Homo sapiens: one gene and its partner. The protein of the gene in region 2 purifies or fractionates together with the protein of the main gene of each other region. This does not show direct contact. Each region holds a gene or a part of one and is shown on either strand. Other genes may lie near its edges.

What was found.
Region 1: the proteins of MYL1 (region 2) and NUP107 fractionate together in Homo sapiens (co-fractionation; one large-scale study listed by BioGRID). This does not show direct contact.

Annotation. Positions count from the first base shown.
Region 1 is NC_000012.12:68,735,368-68,739,025, forward strand, and holds part of NUP107 (nuclear pore complex protein Nup107), read left to right. Parts: intron 1-3,658. UniProt on the Homo sapiens protein: Plays a role in the nuclear pore complex (NPC) assembly and/or maintenance. Required for the assembly of peripheral proteins into the NPC. May anchor NUP62 to the NPC. Involved in nephrogenesis.
Region 2 is NC_000002.12:210,298,109-210,301,766, reverse strand, and holds part of MYL1 (myosin light chain 1/3, skeletal muscle isoform), read left to right. Parts: intron 1-3,203; coding exon 3,204-3,347; intron 3,348-3,658. UniProt on the Homo sapiens protein: Non-regulatory myosin light chain required for proper formation and/or maintenance of myofibers, and thus appropriate muscle function.

The DNA.
Region 1 (3,658 bases), on a different chromosome or scaffold from region 2:
GCCAAAAACCAAAACACTCACCATGTTCTTTTTTAAAAATATTCTGTCTCTAAATGGGAGCATCTACAGATTTTACATAATTGTAGATATAGCTAAATCCCATGTTTTAAGCTAAACTGAAAATACTACCTAGGGAATGGGAATATTTGATTCTTGGATAAACTATTAGTTCACATTTACTATGTTCACAGAGGATACAAAAATCTAATTTTTAAAAAATTCTGGACCTAAAAATTTAATTATACATGTATGTCACTCCATTTACAGATATAAAGATAACTCGAGTAGTATCAGTAAGGCATAGCTAAGGTAGGGGCTCTCACCTCTGGGCTGTCCATTTTAATGACCTGGCAGACTTTTTAAAAACACTACAGGGTTCCACTCCCAGAGATTATGGTGTAATTGGTCTGAGGTAGGGCTGGGGTTTATTTTTGTTTTTTTAATCACTTGCAGTGCTTTAATATAATATATAGCCTGTGTTGAGAACCAGCTACAGAAGTATCAAGTGCCATAAGAAAGGCACAGGTTAAGTATTTTCTGAGTCCAGGAAAAGAAAAGATTGTTTTCACCTGAAAGGGAACTGGAACGTATGCTTGAAATGTATAGCATTTGACTGAATCTTGAACATACTGGTAGAATTTGGATGAGCTGAGATGGGAGAAAGGAAGGATACTGAGATAATAGTCATATAAGGGAAAGACATTGCAGCCTGACCCTGGTGCATGACAGAAACAGTGAGTAGCTTAGTTTATCCTCTGTAGACCTGAGGAGCTGTCTGAGAGCTGGAAATACTGGCTTCTTGGATATTTGATGTGTTATTTTGAACAAAGAAAACAGTAAGTGTTCTTGGTATCTTTCCTTTTGCCATTCTTCATACCCTCATCTATTTAGTACTTTTTCTTTAATTTTAGCTATTGCATTTTTTTTTTAGCCTGTCTTCTCTGACCAGAAGGAGGAAAAAGAATACAGGCAGGACAGCGAACTAAATTTGAGCCCCTATTTGCCACTATTACTGATGGAGTAATTATCTTAAATGTCTCCACTTTATTTTTTCTTTTTTTGTTTTAGAGACAAGGTCTTGCTCTATCACCCAGGCTGGAGGACAGTGGCTTCATCATAGCTCACTGCAGCCTCAAACTTCTGGGCTCAAGCAGTCCTTCTGCCTCAGCCTCCCCAGTAGCTAGGACAACAAGCACACACCACCATGCCTGGCTTTTTTGTTTGTTTGTTTTTGACACAGGATCTTGCTGTGTTGCCCAAGCTGGTCTTGAACTTCTAGCCTCAAGCTGTCCTCCCACCTTGGCCTCCTGAAGTGCTGCGATTACAGGCATGAGTCAATGTGTCGCCACCTTTTTTTTTTTTTTTTTTTTTTGAGAAAGAGTTTTGCTCTTGTCGCCCAGGCTGGAGTGCAATGGCACAATCTTGGCTCGCCTCCCAGATCCTCTTGCCTCAGCCTCCCAAGTAGCTGGGATTACAGGCATCCACCACCACACCCAGCTAATTTTTGTATTTTTAGTAGAGATGGGATCTCACCATGTTGGCCAGGCTGGTCTCGAACTCCTGACCTCAGGTGACCCACCTGCCTTGGCCTCCCAAAGTGCCTGAGATTACAGGCGTGAGCCACTGCGCCCAGCCAAGTCTCCACTTTTTATCCTAACGTTCGTAATAGAACTCCTTTGACTCGTTTTAAACCTTCCACAGGTTCCTCTGGCAAAACCTTTCTCATCTGATTCATGCTGATTCTCTTGAAGATAAAATTTTAATGTTGTAAAATGCTAATTAAGTGTCACTTAAATTTTGAAAAGACTTCAATGCTTTATTTATACATACATCTTTGCTATTCTAATTATTAATTAAGTAGATTAGGTAGTGAAAGCCACAAAATAGTCTTGGGATCTCATAAAATTAGAGTTGAGGCCAAGCGTGGTGGCTCACGCCTGTACTCCTAGCACTTTGAGAGGCTGAGGTGGGTGGATCACCTGAGGTCAGGAGCTTGAGACCAGCCTGGACAACATGGGGAAACCCCGTTTCTACTAAAAATACAAAAAAATTAGCCTGGTGTGGTGGTGCATGCCTGTAGTCCCAGCTACTAGTGAGGCAGGAGAATGGCCTGAACCCAGGAGGCAGAGGTTGCAGTGAGCCGAGATCGTGCCACTGCACTTCAGCCTAGGTGACAGAGTGAGACCCTGTCTCAAAAAAAAAAAAAAAAAAAAAATGGAGTTGAGATGGAAGGCAATGAATGATACACCATTTTGTTTCATCAGGGATTTTAAAATCAATATTCAGTCTCAATTATTTCTTTAAAACTTCAGTCTCAATTATTTCTTTAAAACTAATCCAGAAAAGAGATTTCTTGAACAGTTAAATGATTAATAACATTTTAATCACCTTTGTTGAGCCTAATACTCTTACATAGTCAATGACGTAGGGCATTGTTCAAGGCCCCTGCTAACACGTGTCACTTGTATGTGAATTAGAAAATTGTAATTCTATCTGGGAACGGTGGCTCATCCCTATAATCCCAGCACTTTTGGGAGGCCGAGGAGGGCAGATCACGTGAGGCCAGGAATTCGAGACCAGCCTGGCCAATATGGTGAAACTCCGTCTCTACTAAAAATACAAAAAATTGGCCGGGCACGGTGGCTCACGCCTGAATCCCAGCACTTTGGGAGGCCAAGGCTGGTGGATCAGAAGATCAGGAGATCAAGATCATCCTGGCCAATATGGTGAAACCCTGTCTCTACTAAAAATACAGAAAACTAGCCAGGCATGGTGGCACGTGCCTGTAGTCCCAGCTACTTGGGAGGCTGAGGCAGAAGAATCACTTGAACCTGGGAGGCGGAGGTTGCAGTGAGCCGAGATTGCGCCACTGCACTCCAGCCTGGCAACAGAGCGAGACTCTGTCTCAAAAATAAAAATAAAAATACAAAAAATTAGCCGGGTGTGGTGGCTCGCGCCTGTAATCCCAGCTACTAGGGAGGTGGAGGCAGGAGAATCGATTGAACCCAGGGAGGCGGAGGTTTCAGTGAGCCAAGATTGCGCCACTGCACTCCAGCCTGGGCAACAAAGGGAGACTCCGTCTCAAAAAAAAAAAAAAAAAATTGGAATTCCCTTCCCTTACATAGATAGGTTCCATGGCAAGTGCACACAATATGTAAGACAGAACACAGGCTAGATTTCAGCCCCACTTACTTGCTTGGCCAGCCACCCTTGTACAAGGCACGGCTGTACACAATAGCCCTAGCATTATGTGCTGTTTTCGTATAGCTACCCCTCAAGTTTTTAAATAACTGGAATAGTCCCCTTAGTGTTGGGGCTGGTGGCACAGAGGAATGGCAGAGAGAATGGAGCAGGCAGGTCATCTTTACCTACCTTTCACTACCTCTACCTCTAGCACATTCTAGTCCAAGCCTCTACTGTCTTCCGTGGCTTCTCACTGTTCTTTATACAATCGTTCCTTATACAGATGGACTAGTGACCCTTTCAGAATAAAATACATGCGACTGTCTTACCCAGAACTTTCTGATGCCTTCTTATTGCACTTGGAATAAAATCTTTCTTTTCTTGATGTACAAGAGTATACATACTTTTGTTTTGTTCTTTTTTTTTTAAACTAACCCCCTAATCTTGTGTCCTACTGCTCTCCCATCACTATATC
Region 2 (3,658 bases):
AGTTTCCCTAAAAAGTCAACCTTTTCACCTTTGGGTCTTTGGATCCAACAGATCCCATACTCCACAGGAGCTTGATGTTTTCATTAGCAAGTGCAGGGAGGAATGTTTTATGGAGTGAAAGAGTCACATATCTAAGTGAACTGAGACACAAATAAACCTATAGATGGAAGGAGGAGAAAAAATTAGCTTCAAAATATTGTATAAATTAGAATATTGGTCATAAGTAGTATGTCTATATTACATATATTAGATATGAAAATATAAATAATTATAATTATAGGTGATTAATAAGAACCTATTCAAATACTCAGTTCTCTACCTAAAGGATTCCACATTCTTCAAGTCTATTTCTGCATCTGAAATAGTTCATATTTGAACATAAATTGAGAAAAAGGGATATTTACTGTAGTACAGACTCACATGCATCTGTATCATGGTTGATGGCCTCATGTAGACAGATTAGATGATATGGTGACCCATAACTCAAGATTATTTGAAATTATACTATGAAGGACTTTTTTCTCATTGAAAACAGTTGGTGATTCTACCATAATTTGTTTGATTTTTAATGCATTTTAACTAGTGATGCTGCTACATTGTCACCTACTGCATCCCAGTCCTCTCAAATAGCTAATTTACAATTGTTGTGACAAAACTATTGTAGGATCAAGCAATGGAAGACTTAAAAACCCTTGCAAGGACTCAATGATTTAACGTTGAGCATTAAACCTTTTATTCCATCTGTGAAATAGATTTTAGACACAGAAGTTCAGCAAACATGGGTGTAGTATACTGTTTTCTTTGTGGCAGGAAAACAAATGTAAGCATTTTAAATTATGTGGAAAAACTATAGTTTCTTAAATGAAAGCATTCTTTAGTTTGTTTCCTTGTTTAGTGGTTAAAGAATTTTGTTCATGGCTGCTCTATTGGAATCTATCACAGGATTGAAGGAAAGGGTGCAAAAACTGGAAAATGACAACATTCTAAAGGTCTAAGTCTTGTGCTCTCCAGTAGACACTAGCCACATGTGGCTATTTAAACTTTAATTAATTAAAAATAAAATTTAAAATCCATTTTCCTCACTTGCACTAGTCACATTTTAGTGTTCAAGAGCAACAGTTAATAGCCACCTTTTTGGGCAGCCCAGAATGACAACAATTCCATTATTACCAAAAAGTTCTAGAACAATACTGTTATAGACCAGAAGTTAGCGAACTTTTTCTTAAAAGGCCAAATAGTAAATACGTTAGGCTTTGCTGCCAGTATAGACTCTGTAAAAACAACTCCACTCTGTCACTGAGGTGTGAAGAAAGCCATAGACAATTCATAAAAGAATGGGAATGGCTGTATCCGAATCAAATTTTATTAAAAAGAAACAGGCAACCAGCCCCTGGAAAATAGTATAACCAGCCCTGGTATTAATTCTTCAAGAGAATAACTAAACTTTGGGTTAAAAATCTGGGGTAATAAAATAGTGTCTTTCTGGTCTCTGCCTTTAAATCACCAAAAGTGTTAATGTCACAGTGATTCTATTACAGCCCATAAAATCCTATTTCTACTTCGGCATCTGACCAGGGTAATAGTGAGCCTGCTGAGCAGTCTGTCCATGAAAGCCTGAAGCCAGTAACAAGAATAGTTCAGTTTCACATGTCCCTTAGAAAGATGAAAAATAATATTTGACTAATGACTTCTCAGTGCCTGCAGCAAGTTTTTTAGCTTAGGGAATTGATCTGTAGTCAAATTGCATAGAATTCGAGGGGGAAGTTTTAACAAATAATGGTAACATGATCTGTAGTGAATTGTGAATATAATGTCAGTGCGATGTTAGATTAGGGGAGGGAGGAATAGCAAGATGGAATACTTTGCTGAGTAATCTATCTAGACAGCACCTTTTGATCTGAAACCACTGATAGCCTAAAAAAATGCTTTCACTTCTACCAATTTATTCACAAATGATTTTTTGAGTATTGTTGATATTAACTGGAAGTCATCAGCAGTACTTTTGGGTTTCCCAGAAAATGTAATCTAGTTTATAAGTTCTAATTAAAATGGTTGTACTGGCCCCCAGATCCACCAAAGACACCCTTTCTGTCTTTGATATACATTTCTAAATTTTTTGTCACTATAATTTTGAAAGTCAAACCAGTTCTATCAAAAGAGAATGATTAAATTTAGAGAAAGTCATCAATACAATGATTATAATTAGAATAGAGAACACTTTAAAATATGTATTCATAAAAGAATGGGAATGGCTGTGTATACTTAATACATACACGTACACACAATGAATCGAGCAAACTGGGAAAATGTGACTAAAATTGATGGCGTCTACCAATGTGAATATCTTGGTTATGATAATATAATTTTGCAAAATGTTACTACTGGAAGATACCGGGCAGAGCATACAAGAGATCTTTCTGTATCATTTCTTAGAACTGCATGTGAATCTACAATTTTCTCCATAAAATTGTAATTACAAGGCATAGCGAAATTCTAAAGCTGATATAGCAACATATGTCATATGTATTATTTGATAAAAGGGTAAAGTATAAAGAGATTATCACAGCAACATACCAAAACAAATATTTCTCCTTCTGAACTGATTATACGAGGAGCCTAATAGAGTCACACATTAGTTAATAAACTATAGAATGTATAGATTTGTCTCACCTTTCTAAATTTTTCCTGAAAAATAAAGTTATTCCTGGAGAAAGCTGGTTAAAGGGATAACCTAGGAAATTTGTACCCAAGAGGAGGTTTTTCTACATAATTTGAAAAGTTTGAGTTAACCTCACATACCATGAGCCTGATTGAAAATTTGTTCTTTCTGAAATTTTGTTAATCTTGTTAATTATATGAGAGATTATTAAAGTTTCTCAAGGCCTTAGAATTTTTTAACCCAATCCAGGTTTCCAGGCAGGTAAAGGAAATATGAATATGACTAGGAGCTCCAATTTCCATATCTGATTAACAATAACAGGCAACTTAAAGTTGGAAATGCTGTTTTAAAATAACCCTGAAAAGAAATGCTAAGTTTTTGCCAATGATATTTGGAGATACAAAAAGAGAATCCAGGATAACAACTTGCATAGTTGGCAGAAGTTGTAAAACTGAAGAGTTTGAACTGAATTTTTGATAAGGTTAGGTTTAATTAATAGGTTAGAGGAAGAAAAGAGCACTCTAATGCTTCTTGCTTTTTGCAGAATTCAAGGAGGCATTTCTCCTGTTTGACAGAACAGGTGATTCCAAGATCACCTTAAGCCAGGTCGGTGATGTCCTTCGAGCTCTGGGCACAAATCCCACCAATGCAGAGGTCAGGAAAGTTCTGGGAAACCCCAGCAATGAAGGTAACCCATCAATTTTTCCAAGAAGTGTGGAAGTATAGGGAAGTGTGTAGCAGTGTGTGTGTGTGTGTGTGTGTGTGTGTAGTATGTGTGTGTGTGTAGTATGTGTGTGTGTGAGAGAGAGAAAGATTGATTTAAAAATGTTTCACATAATAGGGCTCAGTTTATTCTTGATTGTGGTAAGTGTGCCTCTTGGCCATAGAAAGTCTCAGCTTTTTGCTTTATAAAATAAGTTAAACTTCCTTTGAGAATTTGCAAGCGTGGTAAAATGTCATGCTAATATCTAATGTTAAGCATTAGATATTAGAAATAAT